Linked DNA regions of Homo sapiens: regions 2 and 3 are each linked to region 1. Evidence: fine-mapped QTL for protein levels in blood plasma. Region 1 holds a variant in brackets. A gene starts in each other region. All regions are shown on their reverse strands. Distances are from middle to middle.

Region 1 (8,182 bases):
GCAGGTTTTTTGCATAAGTAAATTTGTGTCTCGTGGGTTAGTTGTACAGATTATTTTGTCACCTAGGTCCTAAGCCTAGTACCCAATACTTAGTATTTCCTGCTCCTCTCTCTCCTCCCGCTCTTCTCCTTCAGGTAGGCCCCAGTGTCTGTTGCTCCCATTTTTGTGTCCATGAGTTGTCATCATTTAGCTCCCACTTGTAAGTGTGAACATGTGGTATTTGGTTTTCTGTTCCTGTGTTAGTTTTCTAAGGATAATGGCCTCCAGCTCCATTCGTGTTCCTGTAAAAGGCATTATCTCATTCTTTTTTATGGCCACATAGTATTTCATGGTGTATATGTACCACATTTTCTTTATCCAATCTGTCATCGATAGGCATATAGGTGATTCCAAGTCTTTGCTCTTATGAATAGTGCTGCAATGAACATTCACATTCATCTGTCTTTATGATAGAGTAATTTATATTCCTCTGGGTATATACCCGGTAATAGGATTGCTGGGTTGAGTGTTAGGTCTGTTTTTAGCTCTTTGAGGAATCACTGGACTGCTTTCTACAATAGATGAACTAATTTACAGTCCCACCAACAGTGTGTAAGTGCTCCCTTTTCTCCACAACCTTTCCAGCATCTGTTATTTTTTGACTTTTTTAAAAATAATAGCCATTCTGGCTGAGATGAGATGGTTTCTCGTTGTGGTTTTGATTTACATTTCTCTAACTATCAGTGATATTGAGCATTTTTTCATATGCTTGTGGGCTGCCTGTATGTTTCCTTTAGAAAAGTGTTTGGTCATGTCTCTTGCATACTTTTTAATGGAGTTGTTTTGTTTCTTGTAAATTTGTTTAAGTTTCTTATAGATGCTGGATATTAGACCTTGATTTTTGTCAGCTTTGTCAAAGATCAGATGGTTGTAGGTTTGGCCTTATTTCTGGGCTCTCTATTCTGTCCCGTTGGTCTATGTGTCTGTTTGTTTGTTTGTTTGTTTTGTTTTGTTTTGTTTTCACCAGTACCATGTTGTTTTGGTTACTATGGCCCTGAAGTGTAGTTTGAAGACAGGTAATGTGATGCCTCCACCTTTGTTCTTTTTGTTTAGGATTACCATGGGTATTCTGGCTCCTTTTTGGTTCTATATAAATTTTAAAATAGTTTTTTAACAGTGCTGTGAAGAATGTCATTGGCAGTTTGATAGGAATAGCAATGAATCTGTAAATTACTTTGGGCCATATGGCCATTTTAATGATATTGATTCTTCCGATCCATGAGCATGGAATGTTTTTCCATTCACTTGTGTCATCCCTGATTTCTTTGAGCAGCATTTTGTAATTCTCAATGTAGAGATCTGTCACCGCCCTGGTTGGCTGTATTCTTAGGTATTTTATTTTTTGTGGCAATTGTGAATGGGATTGTGTTCCTGATTTGGCTCTCGGCTTGGCTCTTGGTGTATAGGGATGCTAGTGATTTTTGTATTTTGATTTTGTATTCTGAAACTTTGCTGAAGTTGATTAACAGAGAAGGAGCTTTTGGGCTGAGACTATGGGGTTTTCTAGATACAGAATCATGTCATCTGCAAACAGGGATAGTTTGATTTCCTCTCTTCCCGTATGGATGCTCTTTATTTCTTTCCCTTGCTTGACTGCTCTGGCCAGGACTTCCAATACTGTGTTGAATAGGACTGATGAGAGAGGGCATCCTTACCTTGTGCTGGTTTTCAAGGGGAATGCATCCAGCTTTTGCCCATTCAGTATGATGCTGGCTGTGGGTTTGTCATAGATGTCTCTTATTATTTTGAGATATATTCCTTCAATACCTAGTTTATTGAGAGTTTTCAACATGAACGGTGGTACATTTTTTCAAAAGCCTTTTCTGCATCTATCAAGATAATCATGTGGGTTTTGTCTTTAGTCACATTTATGTGATGAGTCACATTTTATTGATTTACATATGTTGAACCAATCTTACATCCCAGGGATGAAGACTATTTGATCATGATGGATTAGCTTTTTGATGTCCTGCTGGATTAGGTTTGCAAGTATTTTGTTGAGGATTTTTGTATCAGTGTTCATCAAGGATATCAGCCTGAAGTTTTTATTGTTGTTGTGTCTCTTTCAGGTTTTGGTATCAGGATGATGCTGGCCTCATAGAATAAAATGGGAAGCAGTCCCTCTTCCTCAATTTTTTTTGACGTTTCAGTAGGAATGGTACTAGCTCTTCTTTGCACATCTGGTAGAATTCAGCTGTGAATCTATCTGGTCCTGGCCTTTTGTTTCTTAGTAGGCTATTCATTACTGATTCAATTTTGGAGATCATTGTGGTTCTGTTCAAGGAATCAATTTCTTCCTGGTTCTGTCTTGGGAGGGTGTATGTGTCCAGTAATTTATCCATCTCTTCTAGATTTTCTAGTTTGTGTGCATAGAGCTGTCTGTAGTAGTTTCTGATGGTTATTTTTATTTTTGTGGGGTCAGTGCTAACATCCCCCTTGTCATTTGTAATTGTGTTACTTTGGGTCTTCTCTCTCTTTTCTTCTTTATTAGCCAGGTAGCAAACTATCTGTCTTATTAATGTTTTCAAAAAACCAACTCTTGGATTTGTTGATCTTTTGAATGTTTTTTCATGTCTTGACTTTCTTCATTTCAACTCTGATTTTGGTTTTCCTTGCCTGCTGCTAGTTTTGGAGTTGATTTGCTCTTGTTTCTCTAATTCTTCAAGTTGTGATGTTAGGTTCTTACTTTGGGATCTTTCTTTTTGATGTGAGCTTTTAATGCTATGAATTTCCCTCTTAACACTACCTTAGCTGTGTCCCAGAGATTCCAGTATGTTGTTTCTTAATTCTCTTTAGTTTCAAAGAACTTCTTGATTTCTGCCTTAGTTTTATTATTTACCCCCAAGTCATTCAGGAGCATGTTGTTTAATTCCCATGTAATTGCATGGTTTTGAGTAATTTTCTTAGTCTTGGCTTCTATTTTTATTGAGCTGTCGTCTGAGGGTGTTTTTGGTATAATTTTGGTTCTTTTGCATTTGCTGAGGATTGTTTTATGTCCAATTATGTGGTTGATTTTTAGAGAATGTGCCATGTGATTATGAGAATAATATATATTCTATTGTTTGGGGGTAGAGAGTTCTGTGGAGGTCTATCAGATCCATTTGATCCAATGTTGAGTTCAGGTCCTGAATATCTTTGTAAGTTTTCTGCCTCAATGATCTGTCTAATACTGTCAGTGAACTGCTGAAGTCTCCCACTATTATTGTGTGGGCATCTCAGTCTCTTTGTAGGTCTCTAAGAACTTTCTTTATGAAGCTGGGTGCTCTTGTGTTGGATGCATATATATTTAGGATAGTTGGTCTTGTTGAATTGAACCCTTTACCATTATGTAATGCCCTTCTTTGTCTTTTTTGGTCTTTGTTGGTTTAAAGTCTGTTTTGTCTGAAATTAGGATTGCCACCCCTGCTTTTTTCTGATTTCCATTTGCGTGGTAGATTCTCCTCCATCTCTTTATTTTGAGCCTTTGGGTGTCATTACATGTGAGATGGTTCTCTTGACAACAGCATACAATTGGGTCTTGCTTTTTTATCGAGCTTGCCACTCTGTGCCTCTTAAGTTGGGCATTTAGCCCATTTACATTCAAGGCAAGTATTGGTATGTGTGAATTTGATGCTCTGATTGTGTTTTTATGCTGGCTTGTTTGTGTGGTGGCTTTATAGTGTCACTGGTTTGTGAATTTAATTGTATTTTTGTATTGGCTAGTAGCCCTCTTTCCTTTCTATAGTTGGTGCTCTTTTCAAGATCTCTTGTAAGGCAGGTCTGGTGGTAACAAACTCCCTCAACATTTGCTTATCTAAAAGGGATCTTATTTCTCTGTTGCTTAGGAAGCTTAGTTTGGTTGGATATGAAATTTTTGGCTGAATATATATATATTTTAAAATGTTGAATATAGGCCCACAATCTCTTCTGGCTTGCAGAGGTTCAGCTGAGAGGTATGCTGTTAGGTTGATGGGGTTCCCTTTGTAGATGACCTGCCCTTTCTCTCTAGTTGCCTTTAACATTCTGTCTTTCATTTTGACCTTGGAAAAGCTGATGATTATGTGTCTTGGGATGATCTTCTTGTGTAGAATCTGGCAGGGATTCTCTGTATTTTCTGAATTTGACTGTTGGCCTCTCTAGCAAGATTGGGGAAGTTTTCATGGTTGGTATCCTAAATTGTTTTCCAGATTGTTAGCTTTCTCCCCATCCCTTTCAGAGATGCCAATGATTTGTAGATTTGGCCTTTTTTCCCCATATTTCTTGTAGGTTTTGTTCATTCATTTTCCTTCTTTTTTCTTCATTTTTGTCAACTGTCTGATTGCAGAGAGCTAGTCTTCCATTTCTGAGATCCTTTCCTCAGCTTGGTCTATTCTCCTATTAATACTTGGATTGCATTGTGAAATTCTTATAGTTTGTTTCTCAGCTCTCAGCTCTGTCAGATCCGTTAGGTTCTTTTTTTATACCAGCAATTTAATCTTTCAGCCTCTATATTATTTTATTGTGATTTTTAATTTCCTTGAATTGGATTTTGCCATTGTGCTAAATCTTGATGATCTTCATTTGTATCCGTAGTCTGAATTATATTTCTGTCATTTGAGTTAGCTCAGTCTTGTTAAGAACCCTTGTTGGAAAACTGGTGCAGTTGTTTGGAGGACATATGACCTTCTGGCCATTTGATTTATTGGAGTTCTTAC[G/A]TTGGTTCTTTCTCATGTCTCTGTGTGGGTGTTTCTTTAACTGCAGTGTAGATTGAGTACAGCCAATAGACTTCTTCTTTGGAGGTTTTCACAGGGCCAAGGCCTTGTACAGGGTCTTTATTTGTAGCTGACTTCTTGTCTTTGGTTTCATAGTGGGGCATGTTAGCAAAATAGTTTTGCTGTTGAAGTTTTGGGGTGTGATCCATTTTTTATTTTAATGATTGTGTATTTCCTTTATACCTAAAACAAGCAGAAAACCAGTAAAGGTCTTTGAGTCTCTGAATTCATAACTCCAGCATTCATATTGCTTCCTCAGGTAAGTGGGGTTTTCACCCAGCCCTTAAGGGTGTTAGATTATTTTTTATGTGAAATTAGCCAGATTGTATTTCTAAACATGATGTAAAACAATAATGACAAAAGTTATAATAAACTAGCCTTCTTACCAAATCCACATGTCTAATGTGTGTGGGAGGGTGTTAGGCAGGGGACCTGCAGCTAAGGGAGAGGCAGACAGGCCCCATGGCCCCAAATCTAGGATAGTATTTGGTATTGGTTGATGGGTGAGAGAAAGAGAGGGAACATCTGTGCAGGATGTGGTATCAGCACCTGGACTACATCTTAGGGATTCCTTCTTCATTTTTCAGTATGCCCTGACAATAATTATATCTATCAGACTTACCCCCTTGACCACTGGAACACTAAGACTGTTTTGGGATCTCTGCCTGACTTTCTCAGAGGTGCTGGTGAGGACATTATGAGTCTGGAACCTAGAAAAGCGTTCTGACTCTGCTGACTTTCTCAGAGGTGCTGGTGAGGACATTATGAGTCTGGAGCCCTAGAAAAGCGTTCTGACTCTGCCACTAGCCAGACAGACCTGGACTAGGCACGTTAACTCTTTGTATGACTTGACTCCAACCCCTCATTTGTAAAACCAGCATTTTCAAGTGGTGTTTTCCACATCAGCCTTTTGCATAAGCTGTCATTTGAAGAAAGGTTTTTGTTTGTTTGTTTTTTGTTTAACAAAAAGGTTAAAAACCACTGGTCTAGATAATTGCAAAGTTTGCTTTCCTTTTTCTGTGCTTTTTCTACTATTTTTAAAATGTCATCCTCCTTGGTTTCTTGATCCCCCTTTCTGCACTCCTGAGTCTGGGAACACTGAGGCCAACTAAAAGGAAACTTGGCAAAAGAGGAACACCTTTGGGTGTGCCAGGCTGCTCCCAGTGTTTTGCACTTATAAAAATTTAAATGCTGCAAACCTCTAAGACTTAGATATTATTGTTCCTATTTTACAAGTGAGGAACCTGAGGCTCAGAGAAGGTGCAGGATGGCACAGGGAGACCTGAATTGGAACCCTGGTTCCCACTTACTGGCTGTCGGGACTTAGAAAAGTCATGAACTCTCATTGATTGTTTTCTTATATGAAATGGGGGCTGCAGGGTTGTCGGGGGAGAAACAATAAGAATGTGCATCAAGTGTCGAGCACGTGCTACGCACTCCATCATGGCAGCTCCTACTAATATACAGAATAGAGTTGTATCTAACATGACTCTTTCTTGCAAGTGACAGAAAATCCAACTTAAGATGGATTAAGCAAAAAAGGGGAATTCTTGTTGAGCTGAAAAGTCTTTAGGCTCACATGATGGCCCCAGGGCCCAGGCCCTGTCCAGCCATGCAGTAGGCATCATCCTTGGGCACAAAGGTGAGATTCTTGTGGTGGCAGATGCTGTGGCAGCTCTTGCTTTGCCAGGAAAGACTGAGGAAGGCCACTGTCCCCATTAAGTGAACAATAGTTGGCCAGGTCTGAGAGGTTGAACTTGGGTCACAGGCCTGTCCCTGAACCCATCACTGATTGGCTCCAACCTGCATCAGCTATTACATGCTAGAGGTGGAGGCAGGACCCCACTCATACCCAGAAGGGCAAAGGGTGGATCCCTCAACAGGATTATGGGATGTAGGGTGATAGACTGCTGGGCAGCCAGAAAGCAAACAGATCCTCTCCAATACCTCAACTGATGAAAGCACCAAGCTAAAATCATAAGGATCTGGGTGTGAATTCTGGCTCTACCATCTTCCATGTGACATTGGGCAGTTATTTAATCTCTTTTAGCCTTGGCTTTCTTACCTGTACTAACATATAAGGTGATTGTGATGAGCATCATCATCGTCAACATCATCATCACCATCCACATTGCCACCACCACTCCCATTATCATCTTCATCAACATCATCACCACCGCCACCATCACCATTATCATTACCACCACCGCTATCACTATTATCATCACCCTCAACATCATCACCATCATCACTATCATCACCACCACCATCATCGTTACTACCACTACCACCACCATCATCACCACAGCCACCACCACCATCACCATCATTACTACTCAGCACCACCATCATCATTCCACCACCATCACCATCATTCCACCATCACCATTATCATTACCACCACCACTGTCACTATTATCATCACCCTCAACATCATCACCACCACCATCATCATTACTACCACCACCACCACCATCACCATCATCATCATTCTACCACCATCACCATTATCATCACCATCACCATCACCACCGCTATCATCATGATAATCATTATCATTACCACCACCATTAGCATTATCATTACCACCACCATCACTATCACTATCACCATCACCACGACCACTACCACCATCACCAACACCATCATTACTACCCACCACCACCATCATCATCATTCCACCACCATCACAATTATTACCACCACCACCATCACCACCACCACCACCATCACTATCATCATCAGTAGACATCATATAACCAGTTTGTAGCTGGCCCAGAGCCTACTTGCTGTTTCTTCTGCCCCACAACCATCCACACATTTCTAACCACCATCCCCCACTAGGCTTCTGCCTCGCCTGGTCTCACCTGCAGGTCCACTGAGAAAATGATTCTCAGAACACTAACTAGACCATGAGGTGCCACAAAACATAACTCAGGCCTGTTCATCAATTTTCTACATGTCAATAATGACATCAGGTCAATTGGCGTTCTCAGCCTCTGAGAGGGAGGTCAAAGTTTTCCTGCTCTCCCCTTCATGTTTCCAGGTGTTCCCTGACTTGGATCAAATGCAGAGTTTGGAGGTGTTGAGGCCAAGGGGATTTTCCAGGTCAGTCGTCATCCACAATCAATGGACTGATCCTGCCGCTGGACTTACCCTGCTGCCCTCTCCCCAAGGCCCCATCAGGGAGGGCTTCAATCCTCTTGTCACCTGTGGCCTACCTGCCCTCAGAGATGACATCTCTATGTCGGCCACTGGATGGCAGCACCTACTCGCAGACCACATCAACTTTCCTGGCAACTTGCGGTAGGTTTTCACCATTATCAGGATGTTTGCCTTGCTCAAATAGCAGATTCTAGAGAACGGTGCTCCCTCACACAACTATGTAGTCCAGGTGATGCACCCTCTGCCCG
Region 2 (8,182 bases), not on the chromosome of region 1:
GAGGCCCCTGGAGCCAGGCAGCCCTTTACAGACCCTATCCAACTTCCAGACCTGCCGAGCCAGCTCCCAGCTCCTTCCCTCATGCGTGTGCGCTTACTGGGTGCTAGGCACTGTGTTTAGCACCATGCTCAGACGGGGAGCGTCGCAGGCCTTCCTTGCCTAGTGGTGGAAGGAAATGTTAACCATAGGGTTGCAGGGAAACGTAGCGTTGCTGCGGACACGGGCTCAGCAAGGCCTCTGCAAGTGTGCGGTGAGAGCCCCTCTGGGGTTCAGGAAAGTCTTCCCAGGGAAATGATGCTGGCCTGGGTAACTATGGTGAGTAACTACTATGCAGGAGGGCAGGAATGAGGAGCATGCACAGTCGCTCCAGGCAGAAGAATGGCATGAGCAAAAACAGTGCCATGGGAAGGAGCATTGTCCCCTTTGAAAACTGAGAGAAGGGCCGGGTGCAGTGGCTCACGCCTGCAATTGCAGCACTTTGGGAGGGCGGGCAGATCACTTGAGGTCAGGAGTTCGAGACCGGCCTGGGCAACGTGGTGAAACCCGGTCTCTACTAAAAATACAGAAATTAGCCTGGCATGGTGGTGGATGCCTGTAATCCCAGCTACTTGGGAGGCTGAGGCAGGAGAATCGCTTGAGCCTGGGAGACGAAAGTTGCCGTGAGCTGAGATTGCACCATTGCACTCTAGCCTGGGCAAAAAAAAAAAACGGTCTCAAAAAGAAAGAAAAGAAAAGAAAAGAAGAGGGGAGGGGAAGGAGAAGGAGAAAAGAAAAGAAAACTGAGAGAAGACAAAGTGATGGGAGCAGAGAGCTGTGTAAGAAGAGGCTAGAAAGGTGGGTAGCACCAACAGTGCTGGGCCTTAGTTCTTATCCTAAGAAATTTCCATCCTCCTTTCTTTGCTGGAAAGAACAGCCACTAGCCCTGTGAGGCTTTGCAGTTGACAATCCGTCCTTGGCATTAATTTTAACACCCTGTGAGGTCTAATAATTTTCTTAAATGAGGGAGATGAAGCTCACAAAAATTAAGTATTTTGCACACAGTCATTAAGTGGTAAAGCAGGAACGTGAACCTATTTGCACTCTATGCATTGCCACAGTCAGTACCAAAATTAAGCATGAGCAAATGGATAAGCTGTATCAATGGTCACCACATGTTTTATTCAAAAAGAATTCTGTAATTCCATTTAAGTATTAATAATCTGTATAGAAGTCAGTCAAAAAATGTGCACCATGTGACATGAAATGCTAATATCCATTTTCCTCCAATTCTACAGCATGCATTGTCAATGGGAAGAGAGGTAAATTGCTCCCAAGGGGGAAAATATTGGTTCTTGGAGAGCTAAAAAATTTTAGATATTGCAATGACTAGTGGCCTACCAAGGTTCAACCCTACCCAACAAAATCTTATTTCTTAGCATTTGATTTCTCTCTTCAGGAAGAAATTAAATTTAGTTTTCAGTTCATTTTATTTTTTCTCAGAGCAAGGTGAAATGTGGGGGGGTGTGTGTGTGTGTGTGGGTGCACATGCGCGCACACACGCATGCAGTGCTGAGTCCATAATGAAAAAAAACGTTGAGAAACATTGTTTTACAATAAGGAAATCTCCAATCTTTAGCTAGTCAACCAAAATAAAGATGACGTTTCTTAACTTCCCCTACAACTAGGTGTAGCCATGTGATTAAGGCCTGCCTCCATGGGAGGTGATAGAAAATGATGGGTGCAACTTCTAGGATGTCTAAAAAGGAGGGACATGCCCTTTTTCTGCCTTCTCATCATCCTATACCTGGAAATTGGACATGGTGGCAAGCCACCTTTGGCCATGTGCATGAGGGCAGCAATCTAGAGATGGTGACAACACAAGAAAGGAGAAGCCTGGAAGACCTCATGGGAAAGAGCCACTATCCAAGTGCTAATCCACCTACATCTCTCAGGGAGAAATAAGCTTCTATCTTAGCCACTGTTTTCTGTTGTTGTTTTTTTTTTTTTTATTTTTCCATAAGTTATTGGGGTACAGGTGGTATTTGGTTACACGAATAAGTTCTTTAGTGGTGATTTGTGAGATTTCGGTTCACCCATCACCCAAGCAGTATACACTGCACCCTATTTGTAGTCTTTTATCCCTCACCCCGCTCCCACTCTTCTCCACAAGTCCCCAAACTCCATTGTATCATTCTTATGCCTTTGTGTCCTCATAGCTTAGCTCCCACATACCAGTGAGAACAGATGATGATTGGTTTTCCATTCCTGAGTTACTTCACTTAGAATAATAGTCTCCAATCTCATCCAGGTCACTGCTAATGCCGTTAATTCATTCCTTTTTGTGACTGAGTAGTATTCGATTGTGTATATATAAACCACAGTTTCTTTATTCACTCATTGATTGATGGGCATTTGGGTTGGTTCCATGATTTTGCAATTGTGAATTGTGCTGCTATAAACATGCATGTGCAAGTACATTTTTCAAATAATGACTTCTTTTCCTCTGGGTAGATACCCAGTAGTGGGATTGCTGGATAAAATGGTAATTCTGCTTTTTAGTTCTTTAAGGAATCTCCACACTGTTTTCCATAGCGGCTGTGCTAGTTTACATTCCCACCAGCAGTGTAGAAGTGTTCCCTGATCACCAAGTCCACACCAACATCTGCTGTTTTTTGATTTTTTGATTATGGCCATTCTTGCAGGTGTAAGGTGGTATCACACCGTGGTTTTGATTTGCATTTCCCTGATCATTAGTGATGAGCATTTTTTCATATGTTTGTTGGCTATTCGTGTATCTTCTTTTGAGAATTGTATATTGATGTCCTTAGCCCACTTTTTAATGGGATTGTTTGTTTTTTACTTAATGATTTGTTTGAATTCATTCTAGATTCTGGATATTAGTCCTTTGTCAGGTATATAGATTGTGAAGATTTTCTCCCACTCTGTGGGTTGTCTGTTTACTCTGCTGACTGTTCCTTTTGCTGTGCAAAAGCTCTTTAATTAGGTCCCAGCTATTTATCTTCATTTTTATTGCATTTCTTAGCCACTGTTAATTTGGGTCTCTTACATGCAACTGACCCCTTATTCTAACCAATTTATTAGTTTAAAAAATAATACTGTAGCAGGAATGATACAGAATGAGCTTACCACTAGTAGAAAATGACCTGGTCCCAGAGGAAATTAAGGTGCTTTAAGTTGTTAAGTGGGCAATATAAGAAAATATCAATGTAGCCATCTATTATACAGAAGAATATGCCATAAATAGTAAGGGAATTTGAAAAGTATATTATTTATCTGGACTTTAATATTTCCCATCTGGAAACCACATCTCCAACCTTTGTTGTATAACATTAGTATATTCATTATATAACCTATTCTTCACACAGGTGAGCAACTGTGAATGTGCCAAAGGCTATCAGTGTTGCTAGTTTCACATCCCTTACTATAAACCACCCATTTATGTGAAATGGAAATAAAAACATGCAGAAATTCCCTTGGATCTGAGACTAGGGTTTCCCCCAGCACAATCAAGTTTGTGGTCAATTTAGTTAGCTCAGCTAAAGATACTAGCCAATCAGAGTTTAGGAGAGAAATGAATATCCTAAATAAATATGATCCCCAAAATGTGTTCTCTAAAGAATTTCTCAGGCTCAAAATCCAATACAGGAGTGACTTGGAACTCCATTCTATCACTATGAAGAAAAGTGGTGTTCTTTTCCTCTTGGGCATCATCTTGCTGGTTCTGATTGGAGTGCAAGGTAAGGGGTTCTGAGTTAGGTTGTAAAGTAAGAGAAGTGATTCACTGTAAAAGAATCTTGATTAGCCAGATAAAGGTGAATGTTCTGCCTGCATTGAAGAGTAATATTTGGTCAGTCATAAAAGCTTCTCAGTGACATGACCAGTTATCCAAAGTTCATAACTTCGATCTGCCAAGTCAAACACAAGTCTTTGTAGTCTAGGTGTATGAATTCCTAGTAAGTGTTCAATAAATGTTCATTGAACTGGGTAATAATGAGAACTCTATCTCCTAAATTATTTTCTTCTCCCTGATACTGTTTTTTGCTAAGTATATCTGTGGCTAACCAATTAAGGATCCAACCAATAATCAGAGAATTTGTCCCTAATCTATTTACTAACTATCTTTGTTACCTTGGACAAATTACTTAATCTTTCTAGACCTCAGTTTCCTCATCATCTGTAAAATAGAACTTTGTAGTTATACCTTTTCTGACTGCTACACAATGTATGGCATATGGTACAATAAGTACCAAGTAAATATATGAATTTAAGAATTAAGATAATGTATTTTAAGGGGTTTTCAAAAATTTAAAACACTATTGAAAAGCAAGGCAGTGGGGAGGAGAGAGGATGAGGATGAAAGTGGTGATTGGTTACAAAGGAGTGCTTTCTATTCAACACCAACACCAGTTCCATTCCTTAAGGTCAGATAATAAATAATAGATGGTTTAGGAGTTGCTTAAGAAACTGTGATCAGCATAGCATACATGAATTAGTTATCTGTTTGTCTTGTGATAGGCATTTATTAAATATTGTGAAAGTCTCTTTTTCTCCCACGGACTTACGGTGTGGTAGTTAAGAGCAACGCCTTTGGACTCAGAGAGATCTGGGCTAAAACCCTGCCCCTGCTCCCTAAAAGCTGTATGACTTTGTTCTTAATCTTTCTGAACCTTAGTTTCCTTATGTATAAAATAGAGATGATACCTCCTTCAAAGGTTTGTGGTGATTATTTTTAGGCACTCGGTAAATGATAGCAATAATCATGACTCAGTCAAGTGTATCATTTTGATAGATCACCTAAACTGAAACATTGGCCTATACTGATGTGTTCTATCTTTTTCTTTCCCTCAGGAACCCCAGTAGTGAGAAAGGGTCGCTGTTCCTGCATCAGCACCAACCAAGGGACTATCCACCTACAATCCTTGAAAGACCTTAAACAATTTGCCCCAAGCCCTTCCTGCGAGAAAATTGAAATCATGTAAGTAACAACCCAGCTAACATGCATGCACCATATTGGCAAGAACATTAAATTTAGCATGAGTTTTACCCTTGGAGTGCTTGCCCATACAAACACTTAAAAATCAGATGGTTACCCCCTCCATAAATTTGGGCAGCTCCTTTCTTTTCTTCTCCTTAAAAATGCAAGGAATTTCTGGTAGATTAGGCCCCAAGAATGACACATGTTTATTGTACAAAATGTTTAATGCAGGTAACACAATAGAAGAAAATAAAAATCACGCATAATTCTACCCTTGAGTGACAAATACTGTTAACCCCTTAGTATACAGTTTTCTAAATCTTCCTTACTTGCTTCGTGTGCACATAACATAGATATGTTTTTACATACACGTATATAAGCACAAAAATTAAATCATATACTATACACTGTTTTGTAATCTGCTTTTTCATTAACACTATATCATGAACATTTTCTCGTGTCAGTAAATCTCTAATAATGTCATTTTTACTTAATGTCATTTTTAATGGCCAAACTGTATTTCATCATATGGATAAACCATAATTTATATGACCAGGATTATTGTTGGAAATATAGATTATTTCCAAATTTTTACTGCTGAAATAAAACTTACTGTGGCAGTATTGTGTCTGTAATTCTTTCCTTTCTAGAGATTAGGATTGCTAGGTTGAAGGATGTGTGCATATTTTGTCTTTATAAGTCATCCTTGACTACTCTTATTCTCAGACTATACAGAAAAATTAAAGGAACATTTAAATTATTTCCAGACAGTCTACTGTAAGTAATTTTTAAAATTTAACCAGGGCCGGGTGCAGTGGCTCACACCTGTAATCCCAGCACTTTGGGAGGCTGAGGTGGGCAGATCATGAGGTCAAGAGATTGAGACCATCCTGGCCAATGTGGTAAAACCCTGTCTCTACTAAAAATACAAAAATTAGCTGGGCGTGGTGGCGCATGCCTGTAGTCCCAGCTATTCGGGAGGCTGAGGCAGGAGAATCGCTTGAATCCAGGAGTTGGAAGTTGCAGCAAGCTGAGATCGCACCACTGTACTCCAGCCTGGCAACAGAGCGAAATTCTGTCTCAAAAAAAGAAAAAAAAAAAAATTCAACCAGTGACTCATCTTGTCCTAGGAAATAATTTTAAGTAGTTTCATTAGAAAATTCAGCACAATTCATACTGATTTTCATTATTTCTGAGAAGAAGCATTTAAATTATTAATGAGAAAAAACTATCTCATTGCTATTTCTTTGGCAGTGCTACACTGAAGAATGGAGTTCAAACATGTCTAAACCCAGATTCAGCAGATGTGAAGGAACTGATTAAAAAGTGGGAGAAACAGGTTGGTGAAAAGGAAGATCAAAATTTTCTTTCTTTTAGAAATTAACTTTAGAAGACAAAGAATCTGCTTTTTCATTAACACTATAAGAATACATAACTTTTAAGAATACATTTTTCATTCATATTATGGTGCTTCTATTTTGTTCCTAGGACAAAATTAGGTTCCTACATATAGTATCCCCTCTCTGTCTCCCACTGGAAGAATGTGTGTTCCTTGGGGGTACAGAGCTTGTCCTTATTTAATACAATAAATATGTAATGAATTGAATGGTAGACACAGGATACAAAGATAATAAGGTATAGTCCCTTCCTGTTGTAGTGCATATGCTAATAATTATGGTACAATGTGAGAAATATAAAAGTATGCACAAGAATCTTGACGACATAGAGGAGGGAGTACTTAACTTTGCTGGGGGAATGGGGCAGGAGAAAGTGTTAAGGAAGATTTCTCATGTCAGGTGATATTTGATTTGGGTCTTGAAGGATAAATAATTTGCCAGGAAGGTAAGGACAGCATGAGCAGAAGAGTAGAATCATGAGAGAACCTGCTGTGTTCAGGGAGCCTCCATTAATGTGGCTGGAGTTTGTGTGAAGAGAGTGAAGGGACTGAGGCAGAAAAGTAGATCAGGACAAAGCGGGAGGAATCCTGCATGGCATACTAAGGAGTTGGATTTGAAGAGAGCCACAGAATATGTGGGTGGGAGATTGGGTTCTGGAGTCTCACAGACTGGAGGTTCTGCCACATACTAGCTGTCTAGATTTGGGAAAGTCACCCTCTCCAGAACTCAGCCTCCTCCTATGTAAAACGTGGATGATAATAGTGCCACCTTCAGAGGGTTGTAGCTGGGGCAGGTGAGTGGTAAGCAAGGTTGCCAGGAGAATGTAATAAGCCAGAAGAATAGACAAAAGACAGCCAGTTTGAAGGCTGTTGCCTCCTCCTCAAAGTGAGCAAAGTAGAGAGAATCTAAGGGAGCCCCTCTGAGAGTGAAGTGACTTTAATGTGGTTTTGAGACTATGTGGGTATGAGACAATGATCAGGAGAGTCCAAATAAAAGGAAGTAAAAATGGTAAGATTCAGAAACATTGCCCTTTTTCCCCTTCTTCTCACAGGTCAGCCAAAAGAAAAAGCAAAAGAATGGGAAAAAACATCAAAAAAAGAAAGTTCTGAAAGTTCGAAAATCTCAACGTTCTCGTCAAAAGAAGACTACATAAGAGACCACTTCACCAATAAGTATTCTGTGTTAAAAATGTTCTATTTTAATTATACCGCTATCATTCCAAAGGAGGATGGCATATAATACAAAGGCTTATTAATTTGACTAGAAAATTTAAAACATTACTCTGAAATTGTAACTAAAGTTAGAAAGTTGATTTTAAGAATCCAAACGTTAAGAATTGTTAAAGGCTATGATTGTCTTTGTTCTTCTACCACCCACCAGTTGAATTTCATCATGCTTAAGGCCATGATTTTAGCAATACCCATGTCTACACAGATGTTCACCCAACCACATCCCACTCACAACAGCTGCCTGGAAGAGCAGCCCTAGGCTTCCACGTACTGCAGCCTCCAGAGAGTATCTGAGGCACATGTCAGCAAGTCCTAAGCCTGTTAGCATGCTGGTGAGCCAAGCAGTTTGAAATTGAGCTGGACCTCACCAAGCTGCTGTGGCCATCAACCTCTGTATTTGAATCAGCCTACAGGCCTCACACACAATGTGTCTGAGAGATTCATGCTGATTGTTATTGGGTATCACCACTGGAGATCACCAGTGTGTGGCTTTCAGAGCCTCCTTTCTGGCTTTGGAAGCCATGTGATTCCATCTTGCCCGCTCAGGCTGACCACTTTATTTCTTTTTGTTCCCCTTTGCT
Region 3 (8,182 bases), 34 Mb after region 1:
AGTTTGACCTTGAGTTTCTGGGCATTTAAAGAGGACCTCTCTACCCTCCACTCCTTCCTCCTTAAGTCATACTGCACCTGCCAAGAGTCTAGTCTGTCTCCTCCGAGGACGCAAGGGGTCGCCCCTCTACCAGGATTGCACCAGCAAACCAAGCCGCAAACGCAGACTCAAGTGCGAAGGAGCAAGAGCATCGCTGTGGGTGCTGTCTCCCAGTCCCACTCCCACAGAAAAATTGGAATTGCAACCCAGTTCCACTATTCCTTCTTTCATCCCCTCAACACAAACAGAGGTCTCCTTTGACTTGGCCTTGAGATGATTAAGGCAGGTCGAAAAGCAGTTTGCCTTTTGACTCCTCTCGGCCCAACCTAGAGGTGCATCATCCCACAGCTCCCTGAGGCAGCGCCCGGGGAAAGCTTCCTGCGCCGTGGTCCTCGCTGGGGGAGGTGGGCACAAAAGGACTACAAGCTTTCTTTCCTGTGTCTTCCTTCAGAATCAGGGGCCCCAAAACTGCAAAGCGAGACGCCTCTGACACTCAGTACCCTGTCCCTCCTTGACAAGTGTGTGGCTCCCAGCCCGGGGGTCCTCGGTGGGGGTAAAGGAGAGAGCGTGCTCTGGGACGCCCAATGGGCACGGGCTGGAAGAGCGGATGGAAAGCAGAGTGGGTTGCGCTCCAGCCCGGGCTCCCTATGCCCACTGACCCTGAGACTCAATTCCCCAGGCCAGACCCTGGGAGGAGAGGAGGCGGGGACCGCCAGGCGCGTGGACACCGCTGAACCCCAGGCCTCCCCTTCCGCGTCCGGGCCGGAATGAAAGAGTGGGTGGGGAGTTACCAGAGTACACACCATTCGGAGGCCAAGAATAATAAATCGGATGCCCTGACATATTTAGTTTGGGCTCTCCTGCCCCCTGCTAGGTGATCCTAAAGGCGGTGAGGCCCGGCCAGGGCCCCTGTCGCTCTGGCACTGCCACCTTTTTAAAAGGCAATTTTCAGGTGAATCAAACCTTGTCTGGCCGAGGCCAGCAATACAAAGGGAGCTTTCAGGGGACCCTCATGCCCAGGGGCAGGGCAGGGACAAACAGCGGCCGAGAAGCGATTACTAAATTTCCATCTCACACAAGCCGGTGTTGTGTCCTCCGCGCTGCCCCGACGTCTGCCCCGAAAGGCTTCCCGGGCGGGACGCTGGGAGAGGGATCCCCTTGGGAAACCAGGTGGGGCCGCTGGGCCTGGGCTGCACGCCGCGGAGGTGCGAGAGCCCAGAGCAGCAGCATCGCTTCCTGCCCCTCGCGAGCTCCAGGAGAAGTTTCCTCCTCCCTCTCTCCACCAGCGCCCCCAACCATAGAGCCAGGGTCGCCCCTGCTCTGAGATCTGCGAAAGGACTCCCCATGGGAACACAGACACTAGAGCAGCGAGGGCGCCAGGCTACCCTGGAGCGAGGAGAGGTGACACCTTCGCATCTGTCCCTTCATCTTGGGAAGATTCTACCTTTCAGACAGACCAACCCAGGTTGAGGCTGCCGTGGTGGTGTCCGCTTAATTCCAGCTAGGACACCGTCTTAAGAAGCCATCACAATCCAACCCTCCAAATAACAGCATTAAGGGCAGCGAGGAGGCGAATCTTTAGGGAGACCCCACTCTCTGTACGTGTGTGTCCCAGGGGACACACTTGAAAGGGCCAGAGATGGTACAGACGCTCACATGTGACAAGAGAGAACCTGGAAACTCCGCACCTCCGGCTCCCCACAGCTGGGGTTTTGCTGTCTTCAACCCTCGGGCGGGGGACGTCCGGCAGCTCTGCAAACGCGCAGACACGCGAACCCCATCGCCTCGCGCGCCCTTTGGCTCCGCTGGTGCGTGTCGGGGATGCGGCCGCGCAGGCGCTCGCTCCCTGGCTTCCTGGCCGGGTAGCGGGCGTTCGGCTACCGGAGTCCAGCCTAAGGGCCCAGCCGAGGTCTCCCCGCGCGAGGCGGTTGCGCTAGGTGAGCGGGTACCGCGGCCGCGCCTCCCTTGTCATTTACTCAGCGGTCAGAGGCATCCTGCGTCTGGGAGTCCCAAGTGCCTTCGGCTGGGTGCCCCTGTCCGATCCTCAAAAGGAAAGCACAAATCCCGGGTGCGAGTCTAACCCAGGACCGAACTTTCCCGCGAACCTGAAGTTACCATGGGGCGGGAGCCACCTTAGCGCCGCGTCCGCCCGCCCCTCGCACCGGCTAGGATGCTGCGGAAGGCAGGGGCGCCGAGAGGCAAGGGTGAAAGACGCCGTCCATACCCCCAAAGCCCGAACCTGCATCTCCTCTGCGAGGCGCAGGGCGGGAGGACCGCTGCAGTTGGGAGCCGGCTCCGGACAGGCAAAGCGACCCGACAGGTGAACGCGGCGGGAGGGAGCAAACGCGTAAAAAACCCTGCACTTACTTCTTCGCTGGCGCCTTCCCCGGGAGGCGTTTTGGCTGCCGATGTATTCCATAAAGTTCAAAATGATAAAAAGCCAAGAAATCAGTCGCAAGTGCATAGTAACCCAGTAATGCTTCCCTTCCTTTCTCCTCTTTCTTTTGATTGTTAATTATATTTAATGTTTTTAAAATATATGTAGGTGTTAGGCGTATATAGACAGTGCCCGAGCAGCGGGACTTCTCCTCTCACATCCGATAGGCGTGCTGTGATGGCAAGCGAAGTGGGGCGGGTGGACAGGGAAACCAACTATTGTACTTTCAAATTATCCAAGCACTGAACTGCGGCGGCTTCGCTGGGGTGGCTGGCATCGCCGCGAACCGGGGTTCCAGGAGCCGCCGGGGCGGCCGCAGGTAGCATGTTGTGCGGCAACTGCCGCAGGCGGGATCCGGGCGGGCGAGCGGCGGCGGCGGCGGCTGCAGCGGCGGCCCCTTGGGCTCAGAAGCTGCGGCGGCTGCGGCTGCAGCGGCGGGGGCCCCTGGAGCGCAGGGGAGCGGGCGCCGTCGGCACAGCGGCCATGGCCAAGGGGCGGCGGAGAGACCCCGAGCTGCTTCTGGCGTGCGCGAGCAGGAGACGCTCCAGTGTTGGGCTGGGCTCCCGGGAGCACCACATAGGGGAGGAGGAGGAGGAGGGCAGGGAGGGGGGAGGGAGAGGAGGGCAGGGAGGGGGAGAGGAGGGGGGATGGCTGTGGGGGGCGGGGGGGAGCTCGGGGGCGGGGAAGGAAACTGCTGGAGCAACAACCCTGAGCGACCTCAATAACTTTCAATTTCAAGAGGGAAAGAGGGAGCTGGAAAAGTACAGGCGTTGCGCTTTGGCAGAGGGACGGGAAGAGGCGCCTAAGGGGTCCCGGGTCTACAGCGCAGCATCTCTGGACACTGCAGTGACGGCCGGAGAATTCCAGCCAGAAGAATGGGGAAAGCAGTGCGTGCGAAGAGCCCCTCCAGAAGGGCAGCTCTGGCGGGGAGACTTGGGCGCACTGGGGCTGGCAGGCAGTGTTGAGGCCGAAGACCCCCCACCCATCCCAGTTCGGCTCCTCTCCGCGGCCTCAAGCTAGGCGCACCCGGCTGTCGGTGGCCGTGCGCCCCTGCGCCCTTGTGCCCCAGCGCCCCCACCCCATCCCCAGCGCCGGCGCGCAACTACCCTCTCCCCCTTGGCAGATCGCTGGAGAGTTTCTGGCTGCTGACTTGTTCCCGGCTTTCCTGACCTTCTCCTCTGTTGCCTTTCTCCCTTTTTCTTTTTCTCTCTCTTTCTTTCTTTCTTTCTTTCTTTCTTTCTTTCTTTCTTTCTTTCTTTCTTTCTTTCTTTCTTTCTTTCTTTCTCTTTCTTTCTTTTCTTTCTTTCTTCCTTCCTCTTTCTTTGTCTTTCTTTCTTTCTTTCCTTCCTTCCTTCCTTCCTTCCTTCCTTCCTTCCTTCCTTCTTCTTTCTTTCTTTCTTTCCTTTCTTTCTTTCTTTTCGGCTGCAGTTGGTCGCCAGGCGGGTGGTGGGGAGGAAACTCTGTGGGTGCTGCCGGTCAGCTACTCTGAGGTTTACCTGCTCCGAGCGGGGAGGACCCAGAAGTGTGTGCGCTCAGGACCTTCCCGTTGGAAATGCAGCTGTGCTACGGCTTTCTTCCAAACCAAGGCTTTTCTGTGGCTTTGGAAGATTCCTTTCCCGCTCAGGCAATTCCCTCTATAGTCAGCTCGCCCCCCTTGGAGTTTTCTCTCCCACCCTCGGTCTCCCAGTGTTCTTGAGAGGATCTGTTGTACATTCTAATCTCGCATCTGGAAGACTGGGAATAAGATTTGGAAAGATTTTCCCAGTCTTGGGGAAGGAAGGGGAAGGTCCACTACTTTCTTATCTTCCCAGCCCAAGTGGAGGCCCAAGGCAGCAGAGAGTAAGATGCTCTGGCCCACCCAGGGATGGGAGAACAGAGGGCCGGCACCCCTGAGTGGGGCACACCCTGGCTGTCGTTAGTAAATGGTGAGCTTTCCACGTCTTTTCTCCGGTAGCACCAGCCGATGAACTTTTCAGTAATTACTGAAGAAGTATTTAGTCGAAAGTCACAAGCCTCAAGTGATTTTAACATAAGCCTGCCCTATGTATTATATTTAACAGAATATCTGAAGGACTACACTAGCACTACAGGTTAACACAGCAGCAAACTTCTGGGAGGTCACTTTGAAAGAGTCCCTGATTCATAGGTGCTTTGCTAATTTTTGTGCTCAAATAATTCAGTGTAAGTCAATTGCTAAAGCCTTGCAGAGTAGCAAGTGACACTTGCACTTCTATCTCCTTCCTCCATTTGTAATCCCTATTACTGGATTGCCTTCAATTTATGTAAATTAGGTAAATTTACATGAATTAGAGCATTTTGTAAGTTTGCAATGCTGTGAATTGTATGTCTCTGGAGTCCTTTAGTGGTATATTTGTTATACATCCCAAAAGTAGGATAGAGGCGATAAAGTGGCCTGGATGCAAAAGGAAGGGAACTTGAAATATGCATTATTTTCAAGATGCTAAAAATTAGAATCTGAGAGATGGCCTTTTGATGTTAATTCTTTAATTAAATATCATTTATTATTTTGCATGCTCGTGTTGGAATTTCGAAAGTAGGCATAGTCTCCTTTAGGTTTGATATTATGAGGAAGATGACACCTCAACAGGATTATGATTTTTGCCTTCTTTTTAAGAGCTCCCATTTACAACATCCCTCTTTCAGTGGTAGAACTTTTTCTGTACATTGTATGCACATGTGTGTGCACACCCCCACACACAGACTTTCCATCCTTTATCTGTTGCAAAGTGTCTACTTATAAATGACTGAGTTTATCACTTTGAACCAGCGAAGTTACAGATAACAAGACAATTCCAATAATGATTATCCAAAAAAGAAGCCACTCTATTTTACTGTGCCTGTCCCCATCTGCTTTGCTTTCCTTCTTGCTAATACCTCAAATCCTGAATATCTGCACCATAAAACATGGGGGATTTAAAGACTATGGGAGGCTCCCTTTGAAAAGGACTCCAGAGACAGCCTTTCTAATCTGGGATACTTGAGCCGGATGGGATGAGATTGCAAAAGGGATGTGAAAAAGCTATTTGATGAACAACTTCAGGGAAATAAACATGAAGAAAGACATTTACTTTTCACTGTGCATTGTGCAGACACATGTTAGTTTGGATGAGAACAGGAATGGCAGTGTAAGTAAATAAACAAACCAAATGAGAAGCTACAGTTCTTGAGCCATCCCAGAAAAGAAGTGCTAGATGCAGTGGGAAGGAAAAGCTTGTCAAGGAATAAGCTCTGCTCAGAGGAAACATAAGGAAAACATTAAATAAACGAGGAGAGTATTCTTTCTCTCTTGATGCTGTGCTTTAGAATAACTTTTTCCTGATCCATATTACCGTCATATTAAATGTGTGTTTACTTGCCTGGCTGAGTTTTACGTTCCCTCAACTGTCTTAGAAGCTTATGAAAAGCATGCCATGGCATATTTTCTAAAACATAGTACCTTTTTTTTTTTCTTCAAACAAGAAAACAACACTCACAGTAGCCTGTGGCTGCCAGTGGATTTCAGAGCTCAAGCCTAAAGAAAGTTAAAAACCATAGGCTCAGCATAGAGGTCAACATTTGCTTATTTTTCTCCAAAACACATTAGTTCCAGGGAGTTTTGGATAACCAGGAGACTGGGAGACTTGGGCCAGGAGAATAGAATAGCTTTGAACAAAGATAGGAGGCTAAGCATATCCCGACTAGATACTGCAACTTCTCATCTCTCCTTCCACTTATTCCAACCAGGCAGTGACAACAGTAACAAGTTATTTTTATCCATTGCAGCAGTGGCACTCTAAGGAAAGAAAATGATTGTCATATTGTTGAATCCATACTGCAAATATGTGAAAGGGGGTGTGCTCCAGAAAGAGAGAGCAAGCCCAATAGTTTGGAAAGGGATATAACTAGTAGTGATGAGAGATGTTTGGCAAAGTTGGGGCTGACATCAGTCATTATACCACAGAGCGAATATGCAGATTCTGAAAATGCACAGCTCTCCAGTTACTCAGATCTGGATGCATCTGAGTCAGTAAGTCAAACAGGGTACTGCTGGTGGGATGTGTGTAACTGATGCAGCTAGAAGTCATCCCTGAAATACAGAGTGGGTAGCAGCATTTAAACACCATTGAAATTAGTAGATGATGGAAAACTATTTTTAGAGAGAGAAAGAAAGGAGACAGAATTATTGTAGCAATTTAAAAAGTGATTATATGGTTATATAGCATTAAGAAAATGAGAAAATCAAGACCCATGATGGATTACTTTCTGTCAACAAGAAAGAATGTTCTTCCTCCCAGATGAAGTTATGGGACATTTATGTAATTGTGGCAAGCACCATCTGGTATATGCCTAAGTTTAAAACTTATTTCACAAATCAATTGATTGCTGGGCTCACTTAAAATGTGAATATCCAATAGTACTCAATATAAAGAATTTAACAGCTCAGAAAATTTTGCATGATCATGGAGCTTTAGTACAAAGAGGCTGTATGTTGTAGTAAGAGGGCACTAAATTGTGAATCTGGGGATCAAGGTGAGTCCTTGTTTTCTACTTATATTGTTGTGTGTCAGGTTTCTTCATCTGAAAAATGAGGAAATTGAACTAAACCATTTCCAAAGTTCCTTTCAGCTCTGACAATAATGTAACTATTTCTAAGAAAGAAAGACAGACTTGTAATTGCAAATGTCAGAGCTATTTCTAGTTGTGTGACATCACAGCTTTTACTTACAGAATTGTGTTTAATTGAATAGGTCCAGATTTAGAAATCTGCTTTCAAACTTGTTGATTTTCTGGAAATGCCTAACCCATTACAAGAATCCTAGATGACTCTGGCCCAGCAAAGATAAATCCAGGACAAGTTCAATCTGTCTAGATGTCTGCAGACTTTGGGACAACCAGAAAGAACAAATTATAAACTCGAGATTCTAGGCAGAGTCCTACAGAGAGCAGGAAAAAGGACTTCTGCATCTCATAAAGAGAGCACTCATTTAGACCTGTTTGTAGGAATCACAGATGAGGGAGGAATGTGGATCTCACTAAGAGCCATTCTTTTTATCTTTATGTTATTACTTTCTTTTTTGGAATAAAAAGTTGGAAATAAAAGTCACATTTTATTTTTCCTATTCTTATCTTTGGATGAGGATTTATATCCATGTACCCTTCATCCCAGGAACCTCTTCTGAAGTTCAACAGTGAAGGTTGAGTGGTTGTGGTCACAGATTTAGGTTGAAGGGTTACTATCAAAGACATGAAAGTATAAGTTGTAGGCTGGGCACGGTAGCTCACGCCTGTAATTCCAGCACTTTGGGAGGCTGCGGTGGGCAGATCACGAGGTTAGGAGATTGAGACCATCCTGGCTAACACAGTGAAACCCCATCCCTACTAAAAATACAAAAAATTAGCCGGGTGTGGTGGCACGTGCCTGTAGTCCCAGCTACTTGGGAAGCTGAGGCAGGAGAATCGCTTGAACCCGGGAGGTGGAGGTTGCAGTGACCCAAGATTGCGCCACTGCACTCCAGCCTGGGCAACAGAGCGAGACTCTTTCTCAAAAAAAAAAAAAAAAGTATAAGATGTAGAGTGCTAGATGAGGGATAATACCAATGAGTAATTTTTGCAGCTTCTTTTACATGTATTATCTCAAAACATTGTCTCATAGATGAGACAACCGAATCCAGAAAGATAAAGTCACTTGCTTAAGCTTATAAGATT

Which allele goes with the higher level. Alleles are on the strand shown, and positions count from the first base shown. The strength of an association depends on the size of the effect and on how common the allele is.
In carriers of allele G in region 1, the plasma level of the protein whose gene starts at base 3,614 in region 2 tends to be higher than with A alone (weak association).
For the plasma level of the protein whose gene starts at base 3,025 in region 3, G is the high allele of the variant in region 1 and A is the other (weak association).

The links. PIP is the chance, under the fine-mapping model, that this variant and not a neighbour inherited with it causes the effect. The UK Biobank Pharma Proteomics Project read protein levels with antibody pairs (Olink). The fine-mapping took linkage between variants from a reference panel, not from the people measured, so its PIPs are less certain.
Region 2: CXCL9 starts here. The variant in region 1 is fine-mapped to the plasma level of the CXCL9 protein (UK Biobank, PIP above 0.99).
Region 3: it holds the start of RSPO3, and the variant in region 1 is fine-mapped to the plasma level of the RSPO3 protein (UK Biobank, PIP above 0.99).

What each region holds. Positions count from the first base shown.
Region 1 is chr6:160,667,937-160,676,118 of GRCh38, reverse strand. No RefSeq gene overlaps it. Among named protein-coding and RNA genes, the nearest start is that of LPA, 7.8 kb to the right of the region's middle. The variant G/A (reference allele first, on the strand shown) is at 4,713.
Region 2 is chr4:76,002,941-76,011,122 of GRCh38, reverse strand. It overlaps CXCL9 (C-X-C motif chemokine ligand 9), which reads left to right and starts at 3,614. Exons shown (of 4, transcript NM_002416.3): 1 at 3,614-3,737; 2 at 4,849-4,975; 3 at 6,230-6,314; 4 at 7,424-8,182. The coding sequence starts at 3,674. The coding sequence ends at 7,525. SDAD1-AS1 (SDAD1 antisense RNA 1) reads right to left here. Exons shown (of 3, transcript NR_125906.1): 3 at 5,181-6,050. RefSeq lists an enhancer at 1-3.
Region 3 is chr6:127,113,514-127,121,695 of GRCh38, reverse strand. It overlaps RSPO3 (R-spondin 3), which reads right to left and starts at 3,025. Exons shown (of 5, transcript NM_032784.5): 1 at 2,407-3,025. The coding sequence starts at 2,503. It overlaps LOC105377989 (a long non-coding RNA gene), which reads left to right. Exons shown (of 14, transcript XR_002956387.2): 4 at 1-2,795.